Homo sapiens: one gene and its partners. The protein of the gene in region 1 purifies or fractionates together with the protein of each later gene. This does not show direct contact. Each region holds a gene or a part of one and is shown in the gene's direction. Other genes may lie near its edges.

Region 1 (7,757 bases):
TTTGGCTTAGAGTAGTCCCTCTTTCCCTTGCCACTTAGAGGCTCTTGCAACTAATGAATAGGTGATGCATCTTTACAACATGCTACATCCTGGAGCTAGGAAGGTCTTGTGCTTCATTGGTTTTAAGTAGACTAAGTTTCTGGGATCCCTACCTTACCCTAAGATGTCCCTTGACGAGTGGCTCTGGGAGTGTCAAAAATGTCTGGCATTTCTATCAGAATGAAGTCTTCAGGGAGTCCCATATTTAAAACCACTAAATTTTATTCCTGCTAAAACCTCGAAGCATTGATTTTTGTTGCAGGAAGTCAGGGACCCCGAACAGAGGGACTAGCTGGAGCCATGGCAGAGAAACATACATTGTGAAGATTTCATGGACATTTATCAGTTCCCAAATAATACTTTTATAATTTCTTATGCCTGTCTTTACTTTAATCTCTTAATCCTGTTATCTTCGTAAGCTGAGGATGTACATCACCTCAGGACCACTGTGATAATTGTGTTAACCGCACAAATTGATTGTACAATGTGCGTTTGAACAATATGAAATCAGTGCACCTTGAAAAAGAACAGAATAACAGTGATTTTTAGGGAACAAGGGAAGTTACAATCATAAGGTCTGACTGCCTGTGGGGTCGGGCAAAAAGAGCCATACTTTTCATCTTGCAGAGAGCCTATAAACGGACACGCAAGTAGGAGAGATATCACTAAAATCTTTTCCTAGCAAGAAATATTAATATTAATGCCCTGGGAAAGGAATGCGTTCCTGGGGGGAGGTCTATAAATGGTCGCTCTGGGAATGTCTGTCTTGTGCAGTTGAGATAAGCACTGAGATACACCCTGGTCTCCTGCAGTACCCTCAGGCTTACTAGGGTGGGGAAAAAAGTCCGCCCTGGTACATTTGCGGTCAGACCAGTTCTCTGCTCTCGAACCGTTTTCTGTTGTTTAAGATGTTTATCAAGACAATACATGCACCGCTGAACATAGACCCTTTTCAGTGGTTCTGCTTTTGCCCTTTGCCTTGTGATCTTTGTTGGACCCTTATCAGTAGTTCTGCTTTTGACCTTTGTCCTGTTCCCTCAGAAGCACGTGATCTTTGTTCTGCTTTTTGCCCTTTGAAGCGTGTCATCTTTGTACCTACTCTCTGTTTTTACACCCCCTCCCCTTTTGAAACCCTTAATAAAAAACTTGCTGGTTTGAGGCTCAGGTGGGCATCACGGTCCTACCAATGTATGATGTCACTCCTGGCGGCCCAGCTGTAAAATTCCTCTCTTTGTACTCTTTCTCTTTATTTCTCAGCCGGCCGACACTTAAGGAAAATAAAAAGAACCTACGTTGAAATATTGGGGGCGGATTCCCCTGATAGATTTTTGTGAAAAAATCATCTTGGTTGTATGTCTGTAGTTAACGAAGACTAGTTAGAGAAGTTACGTGTCCTTATCTTGGGGATGGAGAAGGGATGCCCAAAATATTGGCTGATTTTTTCTTACCTAACAAATTCCTAATGGTATTCACCACTTCAAAGGGGCAAATAAAAAGCACGGAAGGCAATGGAGTAGGGAGATTTCATGGGTAAGCATAGAAAGCTACCGTTAATTAAAATAGATAATGAAAATGGCCAGGCACGGTGGCTGACACCTGTAATCCCAGCACTTGGGGAGGCTGAGGCAGGAGGATCACTTGAGGTCAGGAGTTTGAGACCAGCCTGGCCAACACAGCGAAAACCCATCTCTACTAAAAATACAAAAATTAGTCAGACATGGTGGCGCACACCTGTAGTCCCAGCTACTCAGGAGGCTGAGGCAGGAGAATTGCTTGAGCCGGAGAGGTGGAGGTTGCAGTGAGCTGTGATCATGCCAGTGTACTCCAGCCTAAGCAACAGAGTGAGACTTATCTCAAAGAAAAGAGAAGAAAGAAAAGTGGGTGTTACAGGTAATGTGATCGTTTATCTAAAAACCCAAGAGATCAACTGAAAACTATTTAAGCTACTAAGAAGGTCCATTAAGGTGACCAGATACAAGCTAAACATACAAAAAAAAAAAATCAGGCCTTGGGAAAGCAGGCTTCAAGTTGTATTTGATTTAGAGCTGCAAGATAATGTTTATTTTAATTGGCTAACATTATAGTAATTGTTGGAGAAGGAATGGAAAAGATCAACACGACATTCTAATAATAAAATTCTTTCTCACCCTAGAGACAAAGCACGTGGATTTTTATAGTGAAATAAGACCTGTGAAAAATACAGCTTTGGCAGTTTTTGTTTTCAAATTTAAAATCATCTTGAGATTGTCTCATTCAAGGATAATAAGCCTTGTGATGAAATAGCTACGTGTCTTGGGAAGCCCTTATACTTCTTATGAATTCTGTTCCCATCTTAATACAGACCCCTGTATTAATTTGCTGGGGCTACCATAGCAAAGAACCACAGAGTGCGTGGTTTAAAGAACAGAAATGTATTCTCTTATAGTTCTGAATGGCAGAAATCTGAGAGCAAGGTGGCAGAAGAATGGGTATTCTCTGAGGCCTCTCTTCTTTGCTTTTATTTATTTATTTATTATTTATTTATTTTGAGACAGTCTCTCTCTGTCGCCCAGGCTGGAGTGCAGTGGTGCCATCTCAGCTCACTGCAACCTCGCTTCCCAGGCTCAAATGACTCTCTCGCCTCAGCCCCCCAAGAAGAGCCTCTAAGCGGCAAGAGAAAGAGGGACGACTCTCGGCTAAATGTAGCTGAGCCAGGGCAGTGAAGCTTGACAATAATGGCACAAGAGAGGTGGACCTGGCACATGCATAGTCAGCATGGAGGGGATACTGCGACCGAGAGGAGGAATCTAGACCCAACCCCAGGCTCCAACATGGAGTGAGAGTTAAGCAGTCAATTCATGGGGTCAGAATGAAAAGAAATCTCACGGTGGGGCAATTTAGGCAGATTTACTCTCTCCTGTGTGCATGCTCCAAGTCCTTTGCTCAGAATTCTCCCCAGAACCTGACACACCACATTGCAGTGGTCTAAATGCTTGTTCACTCCTTAAAAGTAGCCATGAGAGATGATGTCTCAACCTTCATAGCCGTAATGTTAATCACATAGCAAACTCCTGTTGAAATAATCACCTAGTTCCCTTTCTTAATAAACAAGAGATGCTAAAACCCAGAAGGTTAAGTGAATTCTGAGAGGCATGGAGAGTTTGTGCCAGTGTCAGCATCTGAACTCTGGTCTTTATTCCCAGCCAACTGCTCTCTGCATCGCAAGGCAAGCGAGTGGCAAAGCTCCGGCTAGAGCTGGCAACAGAATATAGAATTCTTGGTTCCTCCTGCAGAAGTGACTGAGAAGCATTAGTTTGTTATAAATGGCAGCACTTCTTTCGTTGGGTGTTGAGGGACAAGTCCCTTTCCTGTTATTTAGAATTGAGCTCCCTTTAATAGCAGTGCCTGGTGCTGAAGATTACAATGAGATGGGCTGCTTCTCACCGGGGGAACACACACAGGCATCTCCCCCGCTAGCAAACTGCTTTGATCATGAGAGTCTGCAAGCTCAGAAACGCAGGATGGCTCTCTGCAGAGGGACTTGTGAAAGCCCGTATCTTCTGCCCCACTGTTACCTGATAGAGTTGTCCAGGTTCTTGGCCTGTTGAACAAAAAATTGAACGAAATGCACGGAGTAACGAAAGAAAGAAGCAAGGAAAAACAAAGCAACAGAAGGGAGGAAGGAAAACGTAGATTTATAGAAGACAATTCACAGAGGGCGCTGCAGCAAGCCACAAGAGCCTGACGCTCCCCAGGGATTTTATAAAGCGAAAAGAACTTGGCAACACCCTTGGGTTCCCTTTAGAGGCCTCCAACTGGTTACACCTTACGAAGGACTGGCCTGCGACCAGTCCGAGGCTGAAGTGGAAACTTCTGCCTTGTTATCAGAGGAGCGAGGATGTGGCCTGTGTGCCGCCTAATCATGCCTAGAACTGTCTGCACCTGCTGATCTTTTGCTTCTGCGAACTGGCTGCACCTGCTGTTCTCCTGCTCATACCCTAGCCCGTGCTTACCCTAATTCCCTGTTCTCCTGCCTCACCACCAGAGGCCCGGGTTGTCTGCACAGTCTCATTTTCCACGTTATTCCTGTAATGAACCCGTCCTCCCACCCCCACCAGCAGTTACAGGGCTGGGTGCGGAGACCAACTCTGGCCAGACACAGAGGAGCAGCAAGAACCCGGGGCAACGGTCCTGTGAGTGAGTGCATGTGGGGGAGAGAAATGGAATGAACAGAAATAATTTAGGAAGCACTTTTTACAGAGCACTCAGGTTCTGCCTGAGGAGGTGGGGCGGGCGCTGGTAACATTTGGACAATCGTGGTTAAAAGTGACCCCATCAGCACCCGCTGATCCTTCTTGAACTTGATAACCTTGGTGAAAACGCCAAGCGTTGGAGAAATTCAAGGAATGGCTGTTGTAATGTACATTTCACGCTTAGCCTTTCCTCCCCGCGCTGGGAAGAAGTGCTGCGCACCGCGGCTCCGCCAGGGGGCAGGAGAAGTCACATTACACAGAGAACTAAAAAAAAAAAAAATTCCCCAACTTTTTCCCCCAAACCTTGTTCCTCCTGAAGAAACCGAATCCTCCCGCTTCGGCGTCCCAGGAGCCCGCCCCTCGCCCGCCGCCTCCCCTGCGTCCCCGCCCCGCGCAGCCGCCGCGCTCCTGCGCTCCGAGGTCCGAGGTTCCCGAGATGAAGGTCTGGCTGCTGCTTGGTCTTCTGCTGGTGCACGAAGCGCTGGAGGATGGTGAGTGACTCTGGGCGCGGGGCCACCTAGCTTGTGCCCTGACTTTAGCCGGGACCCGAAGCCCCCGCCGCCCTCCTGCCAGCTCTTGGTCTAACGTTCGGCCCTCGGTGGCTCAGCCCCCGCGCCACTGCCTGCCCGGTGCACCTGCCCCCTCCTGGTGGGGTCTCCTTTCCTCCCACTCTTTGCCTGCCCGGAGAGCCCTCTAGGGGTGGTGGCAGCTACCCCGACCCTTAGGAGCCCACCAGGACCTCTCCAAGTCCCCATCTCCGGGCGAACCAAGCATCCCCAGCCAGCGCCTGGTCCAGCCCCCAGTGTCAACGTGTCGGTCTGGGAGGTGGGGCGGGAGCCTCGGATCGCTTCCACCTCCCAGCGGCGTGGCTGGGACCTCTGCTGCTGAGAGCGAGTGCCACCTAAGCTCGGCAATCGCTGATTCGGTTGCAGAGTTCCAGGTGACCTCCCCCTCCCCTCGCAGTTCTGGGCGTGTTTTCGTCTACCACCTTTTGCTTGAATCCTGCAAGATCTGCCTAGATCTTCGAACAAAAATGTCAGTGTATGAAACTTCAAAACGAATCAAAAGCCCACGGCTTATTATATTTATCTAATTGGATGGGAAATGGTGAAGAAAATGCATTTTTTTGGTACAGCTTATGGGACCATGACCGCTGCGCGTTTTTGAATGTGTACCTGTCCTGGGTCCACCCTGTCGTGTACACCCGTGACCACAGGGTCTGGTGTTATTTTTCTGTGTGTCTGGGTGTGTGTATTACTGTGGTGTGTATTATATATTATTGTTAGCATTTAAATGTTTTGTTTGCTCTATTCACTCCATGGGTGTTATTTGTACAGTACATGTTTCATCTGGGTGCCTCCTGGTGTCCTCAACCCTCTCTTGAAATTCCTGGGCTACAACACAATTTTTGCTTAGATTTAGTGGAAAAGTAGCTTTTGCTGTTATGCAACTTCATGCTGGAGCCAGCTCGACCTGGCTCACATTTTTATCCACTCGTTCATCCTGACCAGTTCCTTTCTTTCCTAGGAAACTACATTTGCCAAAAAAATACCGCATTGTAGTTTGCAAAATCCAAGATAGTCGTGGTACTTGAAGTTGAGCATGAGGGTCCTTCAGCCTAGAGCTTTGCTTAATAAAACGTAGGCAGAGCTTCTACTGGGAGAGTAACACTTAACTCTGCCCAGAGAGAAGTTGCCATGAGTTCAGTTTGTAAAATGCAATATTAAAATGCTCCTGGCAGGCCCTTGTGTGCAACCGCTGAAAAGGCAGAAATGTAATTTGTAGTATCATTTTTTGAATAGGGCAGGAGATGGCCAGGCAAAATAATTTCAAATCAGCCATTCCTTTGTTTATACCCAACTTGCCAGTCTTAGAGGCTCAGAAATTGACTTCCATTCTGCCTCCTGGATCTCACCCAGCCCATGTGAGTTTATTACAAACATCTGACTAAATTTACCCTTTCTTTAAGTGTAATCCATACAAACAATAAGCATTTATGAGACAATTGGAGAAAGTGGAATACAGACTGAATGTAAGAAATAGTTCATAAATTTTAGGTGATAATAGCACGAAGATTTTGTTTATAAAAGTACACACATCTGGCCGGGCACAGTGGCTCATGCCTGTAATCCCAGCACTTTGGGAGGCCAAGGCAGGTGGATCACAAGGTCAGGAGTTCAAGACCAGCCTGGCCAAGATGGTGAAACCCCGTCTCTACTAAAAATATAAAAATTAGCCGGGCGTGGTGGTGGGCACGTGTAATCCCAGCTACTTGGGAGGGTGAGGCAGAGAACTGCTTGAACCTGGGAGGCAGAGGTTGCAGTGAGCCGAGATCGCACCACTGCACTCCAGCTGGGCGACAAAGTGAGACTCCATCTCAAGAAAATAAAGATAAAAATAAAAGCACACATATCTATAATGTATGGACTATTTATGGATACAATAGTGAACACACAGTGCTTCATTAAGTTATGTAACCGTTTGGCTAAACCTATTAAGAATGGTTTTTGGTTTTGAGTTGTGTTGTGAGTTGTGGCCAGGAGCTACTAAGGAGAGTGGATTACACAGGAGGCCCTTCCAGTGCTGGTCTCAGATTGGCAGGTTGGGAATATCCTGCCTTCAAGGCCATCCCAAAGCACAAATTACAGACACAAGGTCCATGACTCAACTTGTTTCACTGCCTTTTAGTTTTTCTGATCACATCTAAAAGACAGTCTTTATTATTATTTTATTATTATTGTTATTATTATTATTATTATTATTATTATTGAGATGGAGTCTTGCTATGTCACCCAGGTGGAGTGCAGTGGCACAATCTTAGCTCACTGCGACTTCCACTTGTGCTAGCCACCACAACTAGCCAAAGACAGCCTTCTAAGAGGAAAAGACTTCCCTGCAAGTGTGTATGGGGGTGAACATCTGGCCTGTGACCCAATGAAGCTGGCTGCTCCCAATGACAAAATGCTTTAAATTTTTGGAAGTAATGTTCTTTCTCCTCATGAAGATGGGGAGCTGGAAAGGCACATAATACTTCATGGCATGAAACTGAGGGATGAAAACAGGTAATAAATAATCCAAGATTCCACGTTGAGATGTCAATCATAGCACCTGATTTTCAGCATTTATATGGAATACATGCCACCGAGTTTATTAATAGGGTGCTTCTATTTTCACATTGAAAAGTATAAAATCACAAATATTTCCTGACTTTTGATTACCTACATATTTTTATTGAATGTCAGGAGCAAACACTGAAGTGTTAATATTGATTTGTGCAACGAGTTCTGTTGAATAACATGAGATCCTTGATCCATGCTAATCTGGTCTTCAGTAACCTGGGTTTATTTTGCATCTGGTGAAAGGGGTTTCTTTCTTGGAGGACTACAGACATTCATTATTGTCTGAGAGCAATATAGCCAGATCTCTAAGAAGGTAAGGACAGAGACACAATGACGAGGATTCTCTAACCAAGAGCCTTTGACACTT
Region 2 (7,000 bases), on another chromosome or scaffold:
TTGTGCTATCAAATAATAGGTCTTATTCTGTTTTTCTGTGCCCATTAACCCCCACCTCGCCACTACCCTTCTCAGCCTTTGCTAAGCATCCTTCTACTCTATCTCCATGAGTGTTCTGTAACTTTTAAAAGTCATCAGTATACCTTGTAGATTTTTTTTCATGTCAGTAAGAGATCTTGCTTTTAAAATACCCTAATCTGTTCACTTTTTCTCATCTCCCATCACCACCCTTTTTCAGCCACTGTCATCTCTCACTTGGACCATTTCAATGGCCATCTAGTTTGTTTCTTTGCTTCCAGTTTTTCCCTCTTGTTCCCACATAGCAGCCACAGTGATCTATTTAAAACCTGAGATTGTATCACCTCTTTGCTGGAAACATGGCAGTGTTTCCTGTTCCAGTAAAATCCAAACTTTCACCTTTAGTTAGAATTAATGCTTTCTAAGCTTAGGCAGGGCTGTTTACCTGTTTTGATTACTGATTTTTGCCATGTGCCTAGAAAGTATCTTGTGCATACTAGGTGCTCTGTAAATCTGTTAAATGTAATTAATGAATTAGCTAGTTGGCCTTGATGTGTTATTCTCTGCCTGTTTATCTCATTTTATCCTCCTCTTTGCTTCTTACTTTGATCTGCCACATTGGCTTTATTCTGCTGCTTGGATTGGCCAACTTCATTCCCTCTAGGCTTTGCAGAAGCTGTTTTCTTTGCCTGGAATATCCTGTCCCCAGTTTTCTCACAGCTGAATCTTATCATTTCGTATTTCAGTGTAAATGTCACTTGCTTAAAGAGATGTTCTCTGATCACCAAACTAGTTATCTCTTCACCTTCTGTTATTCTGTTTAAAAGTTTTTAAATTTAGTTTAAAAAAAAGTGATAAATCACGTGGCCCAAAATTAAGAAAATGCTACAAGACGTACAGTGAAAAATGCCTCTACCACTGTCATCTGTAAATCAAAGCAATACATATTAGTCTCTTTTTTATCCTTTCAGAGGCTCTTTAAATGAAGTGTTTTTAAACCAGTCTTTAAGAACTATATAGCCAGTATCTCCTCATCTTTTCAGATAATACACTATGAAAATTAGGCCAAACCACTGTATATAAGCCACTTCAACTTCCCATTCATCCTATCTACAATTTAATCTATAGTCTATACTTGCCCTTCAGTTTTACCTCTTCTAGTTGGTTCCCCTTGCATTTTGCCCCCCAAGTTTGATCTGTGAGATCAAAATGGTTCTTGTTCAGAGTTAGTGATATTACCACCTGAGCCCATGATCTGTCTCATCTCCATTTGCTCAGTAACTTTGTCCTAGAAATTTTCTCTCTGTGTGTGTGTGTGTGTACGTATGTATTTTCTGTGTGTGTGTGTGTGTGTGTGTGTGTGTGTGTGTACGTATGTGTTTTCTTTTGAGACAGGGTTTGCTCTGTTGCCCAGGCTGGAATATAGTGGCACAATCGTAGCTCACTGCAACCTCGAACTCCTGGGCTCAAGTGATCTTCCTGCCTCAGCCTCCTAAGTAGCCAGGACTACAGATGTGCGCCACCATGACTGGCTGACTTTTAAATTTTAGTATTTAGTAGATTTGAGGTCTTGTTATGTTGCTCAGGCTGGTCTCGAACTCCTGGGCTCAAGCAGTCCTCCCACCTCAGCCTCCCAAAATGCTAGGATTACAGGTATGAGCCATTGTGTCTGGCCTGAGGTTATCTTCTTAACTCTGCTATTTTCTTTGACTTCAGCACAACCTGGCATATAGGAGGTGCTTAGAAAATATTAGTTGAATATAGCAGAATGATGAGTTTTGAACTCTTGAGTTTTAGAGACCTGGGTATTCAACCTAGCTGTGTGACTTGGGCAAGAGAGTTAGCATCTGTAAGCCAGAATTTCTTTTCTTTTCTTTTTCTTTTTTTTTTTTTTTTCCCATTTTGAGACAGGTTCTCACTCTGTAGCTCAGGCTGGAGTGCAAGGGCACAATCATGGCTGACATCAGCCTCAAACTCCCGGCCTCAGATGATTCTCCTCTTCAGTCTCCTGAGTAGTTGGGACTACAGGCATGTGCTAACATGCCCGGCTAATTTTTGTATTTTTTGTAGAGATGGGGTTTTGTCATGTTGCCCAGGCTGGTCTCAAACTCCTGGGCTCAAGTGATCTGCCCACCTCAGCCTCCCAATGGTCACACTGCCTTCTCTTTTACTTGTAGTCTCCCTCTGCATGTCTTTTATAAGGGTACTTGTGAGTACATTTGTGACCCACTCAGGTAATCCCATATAATCTCACTTGAAAATCCTTAACATTAATCATATCTGCAAAGTCCCTTTTTCCATGTAAGGTTAACATTTGTAGGTTCCAGGAATGGGGACCTGATATCTTTGGTGACCTTTATTCAGCCTGCTACTGGGATATAAAGCACACAGCATAGTGCCTGGCAAAAAAAACAATTTATGCTTTCTGGATAGGGTCAAAAAAGATTAAAATTTTCAGAAAGATTTAATTGTACAATTAATGGGAGCCAGAGAATATGAGAAAAGTGGGTTAAAAAAAGATGAGATGGCCAGGCACAATGGCCCATGCCTGTAATCCCAGCACTTTGGGAGGCTGAGGCCGAGTTCAGGGGATCTCTTGAGCCTAGGAATTTTGAGACCAGCCAGGGCAACATAGTGAGACCTCGTCTCTACCTAAATAAATAAATAAATAAATTAGCCAGGTGTGGTGGCGATGGCCTGTAGTCCCAGCTACTTGGAGGTGGGAGGATCGCCTTAACCTGGGAGGTCAAGGCTGTAGTGAGCCATGGTCACAACGCTGCACTCCAGCCTGGGTGACAGAACGAGACCCTGTCCTTCCCCACCCCCCAAAAAAGATGAGGTAAGGGAAAGGATTATAGCATGTGACTTTATATGATACAGTGAATAAATGGGATAAGTGTATAATGAAGTAATTATTTTTTGTCAGATTTTGATTTTTTTTTTTTCCTGTTCAGATGTGTGGGAGGATTTATCCATATTTTTAGTGATAAATTTTATGGAGTAAATAGTGTACCCCTGAAAGGAGGTGGTGGTGGTGGTAGGAATATATTGCATATGATTACCATGAATATATTGCATATGATTAATTATCCAATAAAAATTGGATAATTGCCTTCCTTGTTATCCTGCAAAAGTTAACATGTAAACTATATGAAATGATTAATGAATGGATATCACATATTTTCCTGAATGTTAGACAAGAATCACTTCATTTAGAATAAAAATAAAATAAAAGTACCCTTTAAATCAATGGTTTCAGTTAGAGTAACATAAAAAGTCATACTGACATTTTAATTCTTTTTTCTATCTTCCTAACAGGTTCTTTGGCATGGACACAAGTTCAGTGGGAGGATTAGAATTGACTGATCAGACTCCTGTTTTATTAGGGAGTACGGCCATGGCAACTAGTCTCACGAATGTAGGAAACTCATTTAGTGGTCCAGCTAATCCTTTAGTGTCTAGATCTAATAAGTTTCAGAACTCGTCAGTGGAAGATGATGATGATGTTGTTTTTATCGAACCTGTACAACCTCCCCCACCTTCTGTACCAGTGGTAGCTGATCAAAGAACCATAACATTTACATCATCAAAAAATGAAGAACTACAAGGAAATGATTCCAAAATTACTCCTTCCTCAAAAGAGTTGGCATCTCAGAAGGGAAGTGTAAGTGAGACAATTGTCATTGATGATGAAGAGGACATGGAAACAAATCAAGGGCAAGAGAAAAATTCCTCCAATTTTATTGAACGAAGACCTCCTGAGACTAAAAACAGAACCAATGATGTGGATTTCTCCACTTCCAGTTTTTCAAGAAGTAAGGTAAATGCAGGAATGGGTAATAGTGGTATCACCACAGAACCAGACTCTGAAATTCAGATTGCTAATGTTACAACTTTAGAAACAGGTGTAAGCTCTGTGAATGATGGCCAATTAGAAAATACTGACGGGCGAGATATGAACTTAATGATTACACATGTAACATCACTGCAGAATACCAACTTGGGAGATGTCTCTAACGGACTGCAGTCAAGTAATTTTGGTGTTAATATACAAACATACACCCCATCTTTAACTTCACAGACCAAGACTGGAGTAGGACCTTTTAATCCTGGTAGAATGAATGTGGCAGGAGACGTTTTTCAGAATGGAGAATCTGCAACTCATCATAATCCTGGTAAGCAGTAAGAGATACTCTACTTCATGTAAATGAATTTAAACTTTTGGCTGCTGCTTTTTTCATTGTAGTAACTGGTATTACCTTGTTTAGTTTCATCATGTGAAATATGTGAATTATATTGAATTTTATCTTAAGTTTGGTATTTTAATAAGAATTGTAAAACCATGTATAGTATTTTTCTGTGGATTACTAAAAAGTTAATCATAAAGTAGTTTTATATTTAAAGGATTTAAGAAAAAAATACTCTTTACATTCATCACCAAAGTCTGATAATTTGGCCGGGCACGGCGGCTCACACCTGTAATCCCAGCACTTTGGGAGGCCAAGGTGGGTGGATTGCTTGAGCCCAGGAGTTCGAGACCAGTCTAGGCCACATAGCGAGACGCCATCTCTAAATTTAAAAAGCAAAACAAACAAAAGAATGAAGTGTGATAATTTAATATCTTGTTTGTCATGCATTACTTTTTGCTAATAGAATTTTTACTAGTGTTTTAGTATATAAATTAGAGAACCAAAAGATTAATATAATAGCACACTTAAAGAACAGTGTAATATTGTACAGTAGTTGCATTTAGATTTTTTTTTGAGATGGAGTCTTGCTCTGTCACCCAGGCTGGAGTGCAGTGGCGCAATCTTGGCTCACTGCAATCTCCGCCTCCTGTGTTCAAGCGATTCTCCTCCCTCAGCCTTTCAAGCAGCTGGGATTATAGGCGTCCACCACCACGCATGGCTAATTTTTGTATTTTGTATGGGGTTTTATCATGTTGGCCAGGCCAGGCTGGTCTCAAACTCCTGACCTCAGGTGATCTGCCCACCTCAGCCTCCCAAAATGCTGGGATTACAGGCGTGAGTCACTGCACCTGGCCGCATTTAGATTTATTTCTACTTTCCCTGTGCTTATTTAATTTAATTAATTAGTTAATTTTTTGGGACAGGGTCTCTCTCTGTCGCCCAGAGTGGAGTAGAGTGGCACAATCTCAGCTCACTGCAACCTCGACTTCTTGAGCTCAGGTGATCCTTCCATCGCAGCCTCCAGAGTAGCTGGGACCACAGGTGTGAGCCACCATGCCTGGCTAAATTAAAAAAAAAAAAAAAAATTATTTGTAGAGACGGAGTCTTACTGTGTTGCCCAGGCTGGTCTTATACTCCTGGGCTCAAACATTCCTTCTGCCTTGGCCTCCTAAAGTACTGGGATTCTAGGTATGAGCCACCATGCCCAGCCATTTTATTTTTTATTAAGAGTTGGCTAAGGTTTTATTTTTCTCACATTTGAAGAAAGCCAAACATATCATCCTTTTTTTCTTTTCTAAAACTACTTTAAAGTTATGATTGACATGCAAAAGGCTGTATATATTTAATGTCTACAACTCGATAATGCCGTGTTTATTTTTGACCACGTATCTTTAGCTTTTAGTTAGCATTTTACTACTAAAAAATTTTTAAAAATTATTTTTATTTTTCAAGGGCATAAATAAGCAATACTTTTTTTTCTTATTTATTTGTTTATTGACAGAGTCTTGCTGTATCGCCCAGGCTGGAGTGCAGTGGTGCAATCTCGGCTGACTGCAGCCTCTGCCTCCCTAGTAGCTGGAATTATAAATGTGTGCCACCATACCCAGCTAATTTTTGTATTTTTAGTAGAGACGGGGTTTCACCATGTTGGCCAGATTGGTCTTGAACTCGTGGCCTCAAGTGATCCATCTGCCTTGGCCTCTCAAAGTTCTGGGATTACAGGTGTGAGCCACTGTACCCAGCCCCCCACCTTTTTTTTTGAAGGTTGATAGTTTTCTTGACTATTTGAAATTGTTTTCTGTGAGCAGCCTTGTTCTGTGAAAACTTTAAAATATGGAAGTGATAAGAACTCTGTGCCAGCCTGGACAACGTGGTGAAAAAATACAAAATACTGAAAATATGAAAAGTTAGCTAGGCATAGTGGTGCACACCTGTGGTCCCAGCTACTTGGGGGGCTGAGGTGGGAGGATTCCTTGAGCCCCATAGGCAGAGGTTGCAGTGAGCCAGGATTGCACCACTGTATTCCAGCCTGGGTGACAAAGTGAGACCCTGTCTCAAAAACAAAACAAACTCTGTGACTTTTTCATGACATGTCTGTGGATGTCTCTCTCTCTCTTTAACCTCTCCCCCAATTCCTCTGTGTGTGTGTGTCTATCGGCGTTTCTCTCTCACATGCCTCTCTCTGACCCATTCTGTCATCATTTTAGGCTCATTATCCTAGGGATTGTGGAGAATAATGTGAAGTAACTAAAATCTAGGCAATGTAGAATGCTATATGAATTGCTAGTTATTTTTCTTATTTGTCGAGTAATGTCTGATTATTGAAGACTGCTTAGAAAATCTATAATTTAAAACAAGAGCTGGTGCCAAGCATGGTGGCTCATGCCTGTCATCCCAGCACTTTGGGAGACCAAGGCAGGAGGATCACTTGAGCTCAGGAGTTTCAGACCAGCCTCTGGGCAACAGAGCAAGACCTTGTCTCTACTAAAGATAAAAAAAAAACTAGCCAGGGCTGGTTGCGGTGGCTCAAGCCTGTAATCTCAGCATTTTGGGAGGTCAAGGTGGACGGATCATCTGAGGTCAGGAGTTTGAGACCAGCCTGGCCAACATGGTGAAACCCCATCTCAACTAAAATACAAAAATTAGTGGGGCATGGTGGTGCATGCCAGCTGCTCGGGAGGCTGAGGCACGATAATTTGTTGAACCTGGGAGGCGGAGGTTGCAGTGAGCAGAGATTGCACCACTGCACTCCAGCCTGGGCGACAGACTGAGACTCTGTCTCAAAAAACAAA
Region 3 (7,000 bases), on another chromosome or scaffold:
AAACATGCTGACTACCCATATACCTTTCACTTACTTTTGGCATTGATAACATTTTGCCACATTTGCTTTCTGTATTTATTAATATACAACTTTTACATATATATGTAGTAAGTTGCAGAAATCATGATACTTCACCATTAAATACTTAACTGTGCATTTCAAATGAGGATTCTTGTAAGTGTATATCTAAATATAAGATCAGATTTGCTTTTTGTAAATAATCATGGTGAGTGTTTTACAATGGTGCTTGATTAATTTTTGTCAGATTAGGTTTTCAGTAAAGTCATTGTTGGAAAAGTTTTCAGACTTAACGATACAGTAGTATATTCAGTGCTGACATGATGGACAGTTTTAGAAAGGTGGATATATGGATAATTTTCTCTCTCTGTTATGTTTTTTCAGTGGCCAGTATTTAGTTTACTAAGTTGTGGCTGAAAGTACATTACGTACTCTAACAAAATTACATCCACTAATGTATATATTTTTACCAGAAACAAATGTACCCCTGAGTTATGGAGGGGGTGAAAAGTCATATGATTCACAAAGTCGCTGTGGCAACACCAAAACAGATGACCTAGAAATGATTGTGGTTTTAAGAAAGCACCCATTGCAAGCTCATTTTTAACTCTCATCTTTCCTCCTTTTTTTTTTAATATAATACTGCTGTGACCACTTAATGTTAGGTAGATACAAAAAAGTTTTACCTTATTTTTAAAATAATGAATTATCTGAATAGATTTGAATCATTGGCTAAAACTGTTGTTAATTTTAACATTGGGTAATGAACAGAATGCTATCATTATATATTTTTTAAAATTTTTTCTAAGTGAATTGCCTTCAAGTTTATATTTAGTTGGAAACATGCACCTAATTCAGGATTTATGTATGTATGTATGTATGTATTTATTTAGAGACAGAGTCTGGCTCTGTTGCCCAGGCTGGAGTGTAGTGGCATGATCTCCGCTCACTGCAACCTCTGCCTCCCGGGTTCAAGCGATTCTCCTGCCTCAACCTCCCAAGTAGCTGGGATTACAGGCACCTGCCACCACGCCCGATTAATTTTTGTGTTTTTAGTAGAGACAGGGTTTCATTCACCATGTTGGCCAGGCTGGTCTCAAACTCCTGATCTCAGGTGATCGGCCCGCCTTGGCCTCCCAAAGTGCTGGGATTACAGGCGTGAGGCACTGTGCCGGGCCATGATTTATTTGTTTTAAATGAAGTGTCTGGCTACTTTACCCAGGGTATACTGAAGAGTATGCGTTTCTTAGAAAATAGCTCAAGGGGTATAGACGCATGAAAAGGTGGAAAACATGTTTTCCATTTAACTCCTAAGGTTTTCTTGTTATTTTGGTTTTATTTTAATAGTACTGACAAATACTACCTTGATTAGAAAGTTTGAACTATAATTCCATTTACCAGGGCTAATTTCTCCATCATTACAAAGTTTATTGTAGCTGACATTACTTTTATGTTATATTTAATCAATTTATCCTAAATTAAAAAAAAATTCAGAGTCATTGAGAGCATCAGCTCACTCATCAGTAGGCCTTTCTTGAGAGTAACTCTTTGACAATTGTCTTCAGTGATACAAAGGTTTTTGACAACAACTTTTATGATTGCTTTTAGGCCTTTTCTCTCGTGACCCTTTCTTAGTAGTTGAGAGTGTTGCCTTAAAGTCAAGATTTGTTAACTTTTTGGCCATTATTTGAATTTAAGATGGTAAATATCATCTGATTTTGTCTGATAAGGAATCATATGGGGTTTTAAAAGGCAATGGGTGTTAAATGCACTGACTTTTAATAGGTAATAAAATATTTTTAAGCTTTATGTCAGTGTGACAGTCGTGTTTTTCCAAAGTAAATTTATTTAAATAAGTATTTGGAGAATAACGTTGGACTTTTTGAAACTCAGGTTTCTCTTAAGTTTTTTGAAGTTGTTTTTATTCATTTTTAGAATGGATATAAGTTCAGATTTATTTCTCTACCATTAAATAGTCATTGTATAATTTTAGATGAGTTTCTTTAGTCACACCCTGAGGTTTTGAATATTGTAGACCACTAAACAGCACGTTTCTTAGTAACACACCTAATAGATTTTTCTTCTTATTTTAGTGGGTTTTAAAAAAAATTTGTGGGTACATAATAGGTGTCTATATTTATGGGGTACATGGGATGTTTTGGTACAGGCATGTAATGTGAAATAATCATATCATGAAGAATTAGGTATTCATCCCCTCAAGCATTTATCCTTTGAGTTACAAACATTCCAATTACATTATTTAAGTTATTTTAAAATATACAATTAAGTTATTATTGACTATAGTCACCCTATTGTGCTATCAAATAGTAGGTCTTATTCTATTTTTTTGTACCCATTAACCATCCCCACCTCCCACTCAACCCCCCATTACCCTTCCCAGCCTCTGGTAACCATCCTTCTGTTATGTCCATGAATTCAGTTGATTTGATGTTCAGATCCCACAAGTAAGTGAGAACATGTGATGTTTGTTTTTCTGTGCCTGCCTTATTTCGGTTAACATAATGATCTCCAATTCTATCCCTGTTGTTGCAAATGACTGGGTCTGTTTTTTTATGGCTGACGAGTACTCCATTGTGTGTATGTACCACATTTTCATTATCCATTCATCTGTTGATGGACACTTAGGTTGCCTCCAAATGTTAGCTATTGTAAACAGTGCTGCAACAAACATAGGAGTGCAGATCTCTTCGATACACTGATTTCCTTTATTTTGGATATATACCCAGCAGTGGAATTGCTCGATCATATGGTAGCTCTATTTTTAGTTTTTTGGGGGACCTCCAAACTGTTCTCCGTAGTGGTTGTACATTCCCACCAATGGTGAACAAGGGTTCCCTTTTCTTTACATCCTCACCAGCATTTGTTACTGCCTGACTTTTGGATAAAAGGCATTTTAACTGGGACAAGATGATATCTCATTGAGTTTTGGATATCTGATGATTAGTGATGTTGAGAACCTTTTCACCATTTGTGTGTCTTCTTTTGAGGAATGTCTATTCAGATCTTTTGCCCATTTTTTATCAGATTATTAGGTTTTTTCCTGTAGAGTTGTTTGAGCTCCTTATATTCTGGTTATTAGTCCCCTGTCAGAGGGGTAGTTTGCAAATGTTTTCTCTCGTTCTGTGGGTTGTCTCTTCACTTTGTTGATTACTTCCTTTGCTGTGCAGAAGCTTTTTAACTTGATGTGATCCCATTTGTCCATGTTTGCTTTGGTTGCCTGTGCTTGTGGGCTATTGCTCAAGAAATATTTGCTCAGACTAATGTCCTGGAGATTTTCCCCAGTGTTTTCTTGTATTAGATTCAGTTTGAAGTATTTAATGCATTTTGATTTGAATTTTGTATATGGCAAGAGATAGGGGTCTGGTTTCATGATTTTGCATGTGTTTATCCAGTTTCCCAGCACCATTTATTAAAGAGACTTGTCTTTTCCCAGTGTATGTTCTTGGCACCTTTGTCAAAAATGAGTTTGCTGTAGGTGTTTGGATTTGGTTTTGGGTTCTCTGTTCTGTTCTATTGGTACACGTGTCTGTTTTTGTGACAGTACCATGCTGTTTTGGTTACGATAGGTCTGTAGCATAATTTGAAGTTAGATAATGGGATTCCACCAGTTTTGTTCTTTTTGCTTAGGGTGGCTTTGGCTATTCTGGGTCTTTTCTGGTTCCATATAAATTTTAGTATTTTTTCTATTCCTGTGAAGAATTCCATTGGTATTTTGATTGGGATTGCATTGAATCTATAGATTGCCAGGACATTTTAACAGTGTTGATTCATCCCAATCCATGAACATGGAATATTTTTCCATTTTTTGGTGTCCTCTTCAATTTTCTTCATTCGTGTTTTATTGTTTCCATTATAGAGATCTTTTACTTCTTTGGTTAATTCCTAAGTATTTAATTTTATGTATGGCTATTGTAAACAGGATTACTTTTTAGTTTCTTTTTCACATTGTTCACTGTTGGCATATAGAAATGCTAGTGATGTTTGTACATTGATTTTGTATTCTGGAACTTTACTGAATTTATCAGTTCTAGTTTTCTTGTGGAATGTTTAGGTTTTTCCAAATATAAGATTATATCACCAACAAACAGGTATAATTTGACTTCTTCCTTCCCAATTTGTATGCCTTTGATATCTTTCTCTTGTCTGATTGAGCTAGATAGGACTTCCAGTACTATGTTAAATAACAGTGGTGACAGTGGGCATCCTTGTGTTGCAGGTCTTAGAGGAAAGATTTTCAGTTTTTCCTCATTCAGCATGATACTAGCTGTGGGTCTGTCATATATGGCTTTTATTATGTTGAGATATGTTCCTTCCATATCCAGTTTTTTGAGGGTTTTTATCATGAAGGGATATTGAATTTTTTAATCAAATGTTTTTTCAACATCAGTTGAAATGATCATATGGTTATTCTTTATTTTTTTGATATGATATATCATGTTAATTGATTTTGTGTTTTGAACCATCCTTGCATCCCACAGATAAATCCCACTTGATCATGATGAATGATCTTTCTAATATATTGTTGAATTCAGTTGTGCTAGTATTTTGTTGAGGATTTCTGCATTAATACTCATCAGCGATACTGGCCTGTAGTTTTCTTTTTTTGATGTGTCTTTGTCTGGTTTTGGTATCAGGGTAATACTGGCCTTGAATGAATTTGGAAGTATTCCCTCCTCTATTTTTTAGAATATTTTGAGTAGGATTGGTATTAGTTCTTCTTTAAATGTTTGGTAGAATTCAGCAGTGAAGCCATTATGTCCTGGCCTTTTCATTACTAGAAGACTTTTTATTACAGCTTTGATCTCATTACTTGTTACTGGTCTGTTCTGGTTTTGGATTTCCTCTTGTTTCAATCTTGGTAGGTTGTATATGTCTAGGAATGTGTCCATTTCTTCTATATTTTCCAGTTTATCAGCATATATAGTTGCTTACAGTAACCACTAACAAGCCTTTGGATTTCTGCATAAGTCATAATGTCTGTGTAAGTCGTAATTTCTGTGTAAGTTGTAATGTCTCCTTTTTCATTTCTGATTTTATTTGGATCTTCTTCTCTTTTTTTCTTAGTCTGGCTAAAGATTTGTCAATTGTATTTTTTTAAGTCAACTTTTTGTTTCCCTAATAGATTTTTAACAAACTTTAATTTTAAAAAATTATATATTCATATTATTTGGTATGACATGAAGTCTTCTAGAAGTCATGTAACATAGTTTCACTAGCAAATACTAGAGTTTTATATTTGGCAGATTTTGGCCACAGATATAATAATTGACTACCTGAATAAATAGAGGTTTTTTGCTTGTGTAATAATTTAATCTAGAGCATGGTAATTTGGGGTTGTTTAAAACAGCAATGTCAGAGCTCTGGGTGAGCTTCTCTGTGAAACTCTTGGCTTTCTCATAATAAAGAGATGACTGCTGTATCATGTACTTATGGGAGACAACCAAAGACATTGGAAAAGAGACTCTCCTGTACATTTTCTTTTCTTTTCTTTTCTTTTTTTTTTAAAAAAAGGAGAAAACCTCTCTTCGAAAGTCCCCACAAAATTCCTTCCTAAGGTTCCATTGGTTACAAGACTACTCTAAACTAATTCACCAGCAAAGCAGAATGGGGTTCGCTTTTTGCTAGATCAGTCTTGGTTCATCACCTGGTTCATCCCCTGGAGCAGGAATAGGGCTTCAGTGGACTTTATTGAATATATTGCCATATTCAGGAGTAAATCAGGATTTTCATAGGAAGGAAGAAAGGGAAAATAGTTGTTTGGATAGGAACCTAACTGGACGGTTATTAGTTGCCTAAAAACTGTTGAAATAGCAAAATTTTGGAAAAATAAGTCACCTGGATGTGGAAGAAGCACTGTAAACCATAAAAGGGTGAAATGCAATCAAAATGTTTTAAAAGCAGAGTGGTACATAGAATGTGAAGAACAGTTGGACTCTAAGTTGAAAGACCTAGATTTTCATATCTTCTTAGCCTTATTGGCTATACAAGTTGAGTGAATCCTGTTAACTTCAGCCCTCACTCTTCTTTTTTTTTGGGGGGGTAAATGTGTAGGGTTACATTAATGATCTTCACAGTCTTTCCCCACTCCAAATTCAGGACACTCTAAAAATTCTAAATGACTTTCAGTGACCTCCTGCTTTTGCCCAAAAGCTTTCATTTGTGTTTCTAGATTTTCGTGACCAAAATAATAAATGCCTTTCCCTAAGATTTACTAGAACTTAATGCCATGTTGTAGAACCCAAATAGGTTAATCTGAAATATTAATGATACCACATTTTAGAGGAAAACTTTGATTCTTCTTTATAAGAAAATTATTTTCTACAAATATTAATTTTTTATTAAGAGTATTAAAATTGGTGTTAATTGTAGAACTTTACTTTTGAGACAGACATAGGCATAAGCCATTTTGTATTACTCAATTTAACTTGTACAACAGTTTTATAAAATTGACAGGTTAACATTTCTACTAAAATTCACAAAAATTAACCGTCTGCAGAATCAGTATAGCAGAATGGGAATTTGAACCCATGTCCGACTTAATAGTAACTGGAGAAATAAAGCATATTGTTGAGAGAGAAATATTTTTTCTTCTGCCAAATAGTACTATAAAGCAATAATAGTTGGAAAATGGATGTTTCTCTCTAAAATAGTTATGTCTGTGCCCTATGAACTCCTGCCTTTTAAGCTGTGATACAAAGATAATCCTAATTTTTATAATACCAAGTGCTGTTACATTTTATCATTGCAAACAAGTGATGAGACAAATAAGACACAAGCCTTCTTTAGTGCCATATTTTTTTGGTAGATAAAAATGTCAAAGTAGTATTACACAAGGATCCAGCCAAACTGTTTTTAGTGTTTAAACATAGGAAGGCTGAGATTATGAGCAACCCTTTTTAAACTCTAAAGAGCTGATTTAAGAGCTAAGCGGTAGATCTTAGATGTAGCATATAACTTAATA

What was found. The genes of interacting proteins can lie anywhere in the genome.
Region 2: the proteins of PDGFRL (region 1) and ZMYM2 purify together in Homo sapiens (co-immunoprecipitation; 2 studies listed by BioGRID and IntAct, with this or other methods). This does not show direct contact.
Region 3: the proteins of PDGFRL (region 1) and ANKRD28 purify together in Homo sapiens (co-immunoprecipitation; 2 studies listed by BioGRID and IntAct, with this or other methods). This does not show direct contact.

The regions. Positions count from the first base shown.
Region 1 is NC_000008.11:17,572,546-17,580,302, forward strand, and holds the start of PDGFRL (platelet-derived growth factor receptor-like protein precursor), read left to right. Parts: upstream 1-4,670; 5' UTR 4,671-4,707; coding exon 4,708-4,762; intron 4,763-7,757.
Region 2 is NC_000013.11:19,989,727-19,996,726, forward strand, and holds part of ZMYM2 (zinc finger MYM-type protein 2), read left to right. Parts: intron 1-3,336; coding exon of another isoform or gene 3,337-3,346; coding exon 3,347-4,193; intron 4,194-7,000. UniProt on the Homo sapiens protein: Involved in the negative regulation of transcription.
Region 3 is NC_000003.12:15,787,980-15,794,979, reverse strand, and holds part of ANKRD28 (serine/threonine-protein phosphatase 6 regulatory ankyrin repeat subunit A), read left to right. Parts: intron 1-7,000. UniProt on the Homo sapiens protein: Regulatory subunit of protein phosphatase 6 (PP6) that may be involved in the recognition of phosphoprotein substrates. Involved in the PP6-mediated dephosphorylation of NFKBIE opposing its degradation in response to TNF-alpha.